2 linked regions of the Homo sapiens genome follow. The protein of the gene in region 1 interacts with the protein of each later gene in a biochemical or structural test. Each region holds a gene or a part of one and is shown in the gene's direction. Other genes may lie near its edges.

What was found.
Region 2: the proteins of TLX2 (region 1) and NFIC form a complex in vitro, tested with the Homo sapiens proteins (one study listed by BioGRID).

Annotation. Positions count from the first base shown.
Region 1 is NC_000002.12:74,513,031-74,517,388, forward strand, and holds TLX2 (T-cell leukemia homeobox protein 2), read left to right. Parts: upstream 1-1,419; 5' UTR 1,420-1,776; coding exon 1,777-2,176; intron 2,177-2,602; coding exon 2,603-2,840; intron 2,841-2,942; coding exon 2,943-3,159; 3' UTR 3,160-4,118; downstream 4,119-4,358. UniProt on the Homo sapiens protein: Transcription activator that binds DNA elements with the consensus sequence 5'-CGGTAATTGG-3'. Binds DNA via its homeobox. Required for normal cell death of enteric neurons in the gastrointestinal tract.
Region 2 is NC_000019.10:3,372,924-3,376,724, forward strand, and holds part of NFIC (nuclear factor 1 C-type), read left to right. Parts: intron 1-3,801.

The DNA of each region.
Region 1 (4,358 bases):
AGTGCTCCCAGGGAGATCCAGCTAGTAGACTTACAAAGCATTTCGGTTCACACGGGAACCAGCAGGATGGAGCTGAACAGCGGGGTGGGCTCGGGACGAGGGTAGAGGGCTGGCACAGCAGGGTAAGGTCCTTTGGCCACCACGTGTCAGAGGTAGGCTGAGCTGCTCGTTGGTGCCCACCCGCCACCGCCACCGCAGGATGGTAGAAGCGCCCCCCTCTCTGAGCCCAGTCTCACCGGCTCAGAGGCGCCAGGGCCCCCCCGGGGGCCGGGGCGGGCCGGGGAAGGTAATGTAATTCCGGCCCAGCTAACCCGATTACCGCGGCCTGCACCGGGCAGGGCGGCGGCGGGGGCGGGTCTAAGGCTCAGGGGCCCGCCCGCGGGGGTCCCATCCCCGGGAAGGACGCAGAGTTCACGCACTCCCGGCTCCTGGATTCATGGCCAGAGGTCACAAGGTCACCAAGCGGCTTAGGTCTTTCCCCACCTCCCTTCTCTGACAGCTCCAGGCCATTTTTTGAGTTTGGGTGGGGTAAAATGTTTATGGGAAACAAGGCGGCCAGGATCCAACCAAGGCCTCAGTGAGGTCCCACGTGTCCCCCGTGGCGAGATTTCGCCCTCCCGCCGTTGAGGAGGAAGAGTGTGAGAACAGACTTCCTAGGCACAGAATGGAGGGGCAGAGTCCTGCATTGAGGACTCCCTGCACTTGGGGTCCGGGGGTAAGTGCCAGCCCCAAGAACCCGCCGGCCTGATTTGGCCCGGGTTGAGCCATGGTCCGTTTTACACGGATTTTGGAAAATCGAAATTCTAGGAAACACAGGACACCAATTACCGGTGCGCATGAACAGGGCTGGGGGGACCTACAGGAGAGGCCAGAAGGCGCACCACGATCGCCAGCCCAAAGCGGCCGTTCCCCGCCCTTAGCCCCTGCCGTCCCCTTCCCACACCTGTTCTCTTCCTGGGCCTGCAGCTCACCGGGCGCCGTTCCCCAGCCGCTTCTTACGCAGCCGGGAAACCACAACGAGATTTGGTCTTCGAGAGCATTTAGGCGGGGACCACAACGAATCCGGGAGTTGGCCAGAAGGATCCATCGAGAGGCGAAGAGTGGGGGCTGGGGGAGGAGGCACCTGCGGAGGAAGCCGGTGAGGCGGAGGCAGCCCAAAGGCGGAGGCCGCCCAAAGGCGGAGGCCAGCAAGGATGGAGGCGCGGTGAGCATCTCCGCTGACTCAGCGGCCCATGCTCGGGCCCCTCCCGCGCTGAGCCTGGCTCCTAACACCCTGGCCCCCTGTCCCCCTCCCCGCACATCTCCGCCAGCCAGCCTTCCCCCTGCGCTTGGCGCAAACAGGCGTCCCTTCCCCTTTAACTGCTGGGCCCCGCCCCTGCCCTACCCCCAGCCCCCACTACCCACCCGGGCCGATCCGTCAGTCACTGCCCCAGCCGGAGCTGGCCAACCCTCTCCACCCGGGACTTGGGCAGCGGCGCCGGCAGCCCAGCGTCTATTTGCGCTTAAGAGCCAGCAAGGAAGCTCCAGGGGCCCCAGCTGGCCGTGCTCCCCCGGGATGCAAGTCCCTGCGCTGACGCCCGGCAGCGGCTGGCACGGGCGCGGCTGCTCCGGGTGCACAGGGATGCTGCTGTTTCGGGGACCCCGGCGCCCTGCCTTGGCCAGCCCCGCGGGCCCCTGAGGCCACTCTCCGGAGCGCGCCGCCGCTGGGCTTCTGGCGCTGCCTGAGGCATCCTCCCCAACCACCGAACCTCCGGCGGTTCTCCTCGGCCCAGACCGATGGAGCCGGGGATGCTGGGTCCACACAACCTCCCACACCACGAGCCAATCAGCTTCGGCATCGATCAGATCCTGAGCGGCCCCGAAACCCCAGGGGGCGGTCTAGGCCTGGGTCGCGGGGGCCAGGGTCATGGGGAGAATGGGGCGTTCTCGGGTGGATACCACGGAGCCTCGGGCTACGGTCCCGCCGGCTCACTTGCCCCGCTGCCCGGCAGCTCCGGAGTGGGCCCAGGCGGCGTGATCCGCGTCCCTGCGCACCGCCCGCTGCCTGTGCCGCCGCCCGCTGGGGGGGCGCCTGCAGTGCCTGGGCCCTCGGGTTTGGGCGGCGCCGGAGGCCTAGCGGGACTCACCTTCCCCTGGATGGACAGCGGCCGCCGCTTTGCCAAGGACCGGCTCACGGGTGAGGTTGTCTGACCCCTCCAGCGTCACGCCCGACTCTGACCCCGTCTCCTCATTTCTTAGCTTTCTGCTCCAACTCAAGGACCCCTTTCACACCTCCCACTAGATCCTCCCAGGGGATCCTCCCCCAACTCAAATCTCTGGGTCCTGCCTCCGAGAGGTGATGGGGAGGGAGCTGCCGTCGGTGCCCGCGCCCTCCTCTGTAGTCCCACTGTCCACGCGTGGGGAGGGGAGGGTGAAGTTACAGGGGACGTCTCCCTCGCATCCCAGGGGAAGGGCCTTTCTTGGCTATAGGGCTCGGCTGATGCTTAGGGCCCGGGTAAGGACAGGGCGCGGGAGTTCTGCGGCCTGGACAGCCGCGCGGCCTTCTCAGTGGCACCTCGGGCCACCCTGCAAATCCTGCCCTGGTCTTTCTTCCTCCCGGTAGCTGCGCTCTCGCCCTTCTCTGGGACGCGCCGCATAGGCCACCCCTACCAAAACCGGACCCCTCCGAAGCGGAAGAAGCCGCGCACGTCCTTCTCCCGCTCACAGGTGCTGGAGTTGGAGCGGCGCTTCCTGCGCCAGAAGTACCTGGCCTCTGCGGAGAGGGCGGCGCTGGCCAAGGCCTTGCGCATGACCGACGCACAGGTCAAAACGTGGTTCCAGAACCGACGCACCAAGTGGCGGTGAGGCGCGGCGCGGGCGAGGGCGGACTGGGGTTCCCGAGCAGGGCCTGGTGAGAAGCGACGCGGCGGGCGCCCCGCTGACCCCGCGTCTCCCTCCCTTAGGCGCCAGACGGCGGAGGAGCGCGAGGCCGAGCGGCACCGCGCGGGCCGGCTGCTCCTGCATCTGCAGCAGGACGCGTTGCCACGGCCGCTGCGGCCGCCGCTGCCCCCGGACCCTCTCTGCCTGCACAACTCGTCGCTCTTCGCGCTGCAGAACCTGCAGCCCTGGGCCGAGGACAACAAAGTGGCTTCAGTGTCCGGGCTCGCCTCGGTGGTGTGAGCGACGCCCGTCCGATCGGCGTGGAGCGCCGGGCCCGGAGCGGTGGAGCGCGCGGCTGCCTGCGTCCATGGTCTAGTGGCAGCCGGGCGCGTGAGGAGCGGCAGGCCTTGAGGCTGTCGTCGAGGGCTCCTCCACCACCGGCCGGCTCCCAAGCCAGCGTTGCGCAGATGCACGGCCAGCTCAGAGGCGGCCTTTCCCGCCATTTTTCACTTCACTGCCGTTACGCCCTCGCTGGAACCTGAGGCGCCGAGAGGGCGGGACCTGCAGGACAGTAGCCAATGAGGTGCGGGGAGGGGGCCGGGCTGGCCAATGGGAGCTGCTTTCCTGAGGGACTCGAAATTCTCCGGCGGGTGGTCGGGAGCTGGGGCTCTGAGGGGCTCTAGCGGCGTTGCGCGCGGTGCCGGCTGGGTCTGTACCAAAGGTGTGAAGGAAAGAAGACACCGACCACGGCGAAGCAATAGAGGGGGTGCTGGAGCGCGAGAGGCTGGCTGATTGTGACCGAAACCAGAGGGTTGTCCACCCCGGGCATCTCATCCCTCAACTGTAAAATAATCGCTAAGGATTCCTTCCTGACTTTGAGCCTCACGTTGTCATGTGTGTTCAGCCTGCTGGCCACATCCTCCGGCAACACGCCCGGGCAGGAGGCGAGTCGGATACTTACACACCCAACGAAAGAGAAAATCTGGCTCCGGTGTCACATAGGGACAGAGAAGGGAGAGGAGGAAACAGTGGACAAAGTTAATGGGCCCAGTGGAGTTAGGGTGAAGAGAATTTGGAAAATAATTTGGAAGTGACAAGCTTAAGAAGAATCAAAGGTAATTCCAAGACTGGAAATGTGCAGCATCAGGAAATCAATGGTGCTGTGGATGATGAAAGGGAAATTGGGAAGACTGGAGCAAAATTAACTGTATAGGCAAAACTAAATGTTATACCTAGAGAGAATAAATCCTGGAGAAGTGCCTTTGAGGGAGATCAGCTGACATCCACATAGAGGTGGACCTAGATAGAATGAATGAGAACAGATAGAATCTCTGAGGGAGGGAACTCTTGAGGAGAAAAGCAGAGTTCTAAGGACTAAACCTTTCCACCAAATTCGACAACCACCTTTGCAATGTGCAAGATGATGGAGAATACCTAAGTCAATAGTCCAAGGGCAGGCAGGGCACGGTGGCTCACGCCTGTAATCCCAGCACTTTGGG
Region 2 (3,801 bases), on another chromosome or scaffold:
AACCTCCGCCTCCCGGGTTCAAGCGATTTTCCCGCCTCAGCTTCCCAAGTAGATGGGATTGCAGGTGTGTGTCACCGCACCTGGCTAATTTTGGTGTTTTTAGTAGAGATGGGGTTTCACCATGTTGGCCAGGCTGGTCTTGAACTCCTGACCTCAGGTGATCCGCCCGCCTCGGCCTCCCAAAGTGCTGGGATTACAGGTGTGAGCCACCGCGCCCGGCCCCTATTTCGTAGTAGACGTGATAGCTCAGCAAACGCTCAGCCTGTAAGAGGCACAGCCTCGCTCCCTGCCTCTCTCCTCCACCTCCTGGCCCCTCTGGCTCAGCCCTCATTGTCCTCCCAGAACATCAAGGCACAGAGGGAAGTAGGGGACCCAGGGTTCATTTTGCTGACTCACTGCCTTGGCAGAGAGTTTGAACCCTGTGGACTCAGTTTACCCAAATTCCTCACTGTGGCCCACAAGGCCCTGCCCAGCCTGTCCTTGTCCCCTCCTCAACCCTCCCCTCCTCTCTCTTTCCCCCTTGCTCATTCTGCTCCAGCCACATGGGCCTCCTCGCTGTTCCTCTAACACGCCAGGTGCGGTCCTGCCCCAGGGCCTTTGCATGACCCATTTCTCCATCAGAAAGCTCCTGGCCTGGAGTGCCATCTCTCAAGACTTTGTTCAGGTGTCTCCTCCTGCAAGAGACCTTCCTGGACCCCCCCCCCAAGCTAAAAAACACCCCCCACCCCAGAGATTCTCTGGTCCCTCAAACTCTTAAATTTCTTCAGAGCACTTTGCCCAACTTGACGTTTTATTACATATTTTGCTGATTTTAACCATCCGTCCCTGCCCCAGATCTGGATCCAGGTGAGGGCCGAGCCCAGGTCCCTGCCAAGTCCTCGGCACCCTACCTGGGACCGGCATGCAGCAGGCACTCACTAAATGTTTGCTGAGCAACAGAATGAATCTTCCCTCTCTGGGAGCCGTTCACATGTCCACAGGCTGTGATTTTCTGAGCCAGGGGAAGGAGCGGCCCAAGGTTAGAGCCTGACGCTGGTGCCGGATGGGCCTGGGGTTGTCCGTGGGACCATGGACAAGTCATCCGACCCGGAGAAGAAGGCATTAGAACTAAGGCTTTGAAGGATGCGTAGGAATTTGGGATAAGTGCTAAGTAGGTAATGAGCTAGATTCTCATGAAGGATTGTTGAGTCACTTTTACCTGGAAACTTTTGGTTTGGAAATTGGAGTTTCTTGTCCTGGTTTGCTGGCCTGGACTTTCAGGGTGGGAGGAGCACAGGGAGGTGAGTGAGGGCATCACCCAGTGCATGGCGTGGTCGTTCAGCAAGGTCTTGGGTCCAGATGTCTCTCCCAGCTGCTGCTGCTCTCTTTGGCCAGGAAGTCCCAGTGGGCTAAGCTGGGGTTTCCAGGAAAGACCTAGCCTTGTTCCCCTTCTCCCCATCACCTTGCAAGGAACAAGGTCACCAGGCAAGCTCCCCTGTCTCCAGCAGGCTGCAATATTCCTTTCTGCCCATTGTACAGAATGAGAGACTGAGGCTTATCTGAGGTGATCTGTTCCCCAGCCATTCAGATGGTGAAAATAGACCTTACTGTCACCCAGCCACCTTCTCCGACAGTGGGTGCCTCAACTCTGGGCCTCAGGATTGGAGAGGGAGAGGTGATAGAACTGGATGGTCCTGGCTAGATCTGGGAAACCCTGGGTTGAGGAGGAAAGGCTGCTTGAAGGAGGGGACACTAGAGATAGGGCGTTGAGGGATGTGTAGGAGTTTGGGAGGATTTTCAGCATCTAGCTTGTCTTGGTTATCTCTTTTGCCGGTTGGGCCTCTGAGGGCAGTAGGAGGTCCCTGGGGAAGAGGCCCTGGTTATTGCAGGTCATGTGGGAGAAACAGAGTGACAACCGGCCAACCAGGCCCTGCCTCTCACGTGGTCTGATCCCCTGGGGAGGACAAGGGAGGATGGGGCAGCAGGTCCATGACCCAGTTACAAGCTGTTTGTCTTCCTGCCTCTGTAACTAGCCGGGGTCACCACTGACGTGGGCCCCCACCCCTGCCCGCCTCCCTGGCACCTGTCCCCGGAAAGGGCACAGAGAAGGGGAGGAACATAGAGAAGGGAGGGACAGTTAGGGAGGAGGAAGGGAACTCAGATCTACGAGGGGCCAGATGAGAAAAGGAATTAAGAGGAGAGGGGAAGTGGGGAGGGGGAATTCAGAGAGAGAGGGGGGTTGGGGAGAGAAGGAGTTGGGGGGACAGTGATCCCTGCCCCCATCATGGATGCCTCCCCTGTCCCTTCCAGCAGCCTCTTATCACAGCCCCAGTAAGCGCCAGAGCTTGGGTGGCAGCCACGGCCCCAGCTGGACAACATTGTCCGGGCCTCCTGCCCGCCTGGCATCTCCTCCACAGGCAGGTCCTGCGCCTCTATGGGTCCTCTCTGCCGCGTCCCACTGTGCCCCCCACCACCCCCACTGCCCGGCTTCCCTGGCCAGACCATCTGGGCTCTGGTCCCAGCTCTGCTGACCGGCTGTGTGACCCTGGACAAACCACTCCCCATCTCTGGGTCTCATCCAGTCAGGGGCAGGGACGAGATTGGACAGGGCCTGGGCCGGGCCCCCTCCACCTCCCCTTTGCCTTAGCAGGTTGGCTGGGGAAGCGGGGGCAGCGGAAAAGGGCCCTGAGGTCCGGTCCCCGCCGCAGCTGTTACGGTGACTCACGCTTTGGGGGACATTGGGGTGGGGGAGCTTCGCTGGTACAAGCTGACTCTGGTCTCACTGGGTGGGGAGGCTATTTTCAGAGCCTCAGTAATAGGTGAAATCTGATGTCCTGCCCCTCCCCCCGAAGCACCCCACGGCCGGAGGTGGCCCAAGGGGACGTGGAGCACAGAGCAGGGAGGGTGATCTGGCAGCAGCTGCTCTGCCCATCCCGGCCTGGAAATGGGACCGAGTCCAGCCACATCCGCTGGCACACACAGTGGGAGTCCAGGGTCAACGTCTCCCTACCTTCCTGAGACCCCAATCTTACAGAGAACAGGCTGTTCTGAGAAAGGGACCCGTGGCCTTCCAGGGGGTCAGGGCCCTGATTCTTATCCTCACACCGGCCCTGAGACCCTGTGGGACCTCAGCCAGGTCTCCGCCCCTCTCTGAGCCTTAGTTTCCATGCCACAGAACACGGAGCGGGGCCTCAGGCTGTTCCCTGCTTCCTGGAAGATTGTCTGCAATCAAAATGATCATCGCAGCAATCGCGTCCATAGTAATGAAAATACCCCAGCATCTTAGAGGGGCCGAGGCGGGAGGATCGCTTGAGCCCAGGAATTCGAGACCAGCCTGGGCAACATAGCAAGACCCCCATCTCTACTAAAAGTACAAAAATTAGCTGGGCATGGTGGCGCACCTGGAATCCCAGCTACTCGGGAGGCTGAGACATGAGAATCGCCTGAACCCAGGAGGCGGAGGTTGCAGTGAGCTGAGATCATGCCACCGCCCTCCAGCCTGGGCAACAGTGTGAGACACTGTCTCAAAAAAAAAAAAAAAAAAAAAAAAAAAAAAAGGAAAGAAAATAGAAAATATCCCAGTGCCTTAGGAGGCCGAGGTGGGAGGATCACTTGAGCCCAGGAGTTTGAGACCGGCCAAGGCAACACAGTGAGTGAGACTCCATCTCTGCAAAAATAAAAATTAGCCAGACATGGTGGTTTGCACCTGTAGTCCCAGCTACTCAGGAAGCTGACGTGGGAGAATCGCTTGAGTCTGGGAGTTCAGGGCCCAAGTGACCTAAGATCGTGCCACTGCACTCCAGTGAGACGCCTGTCTTTTTT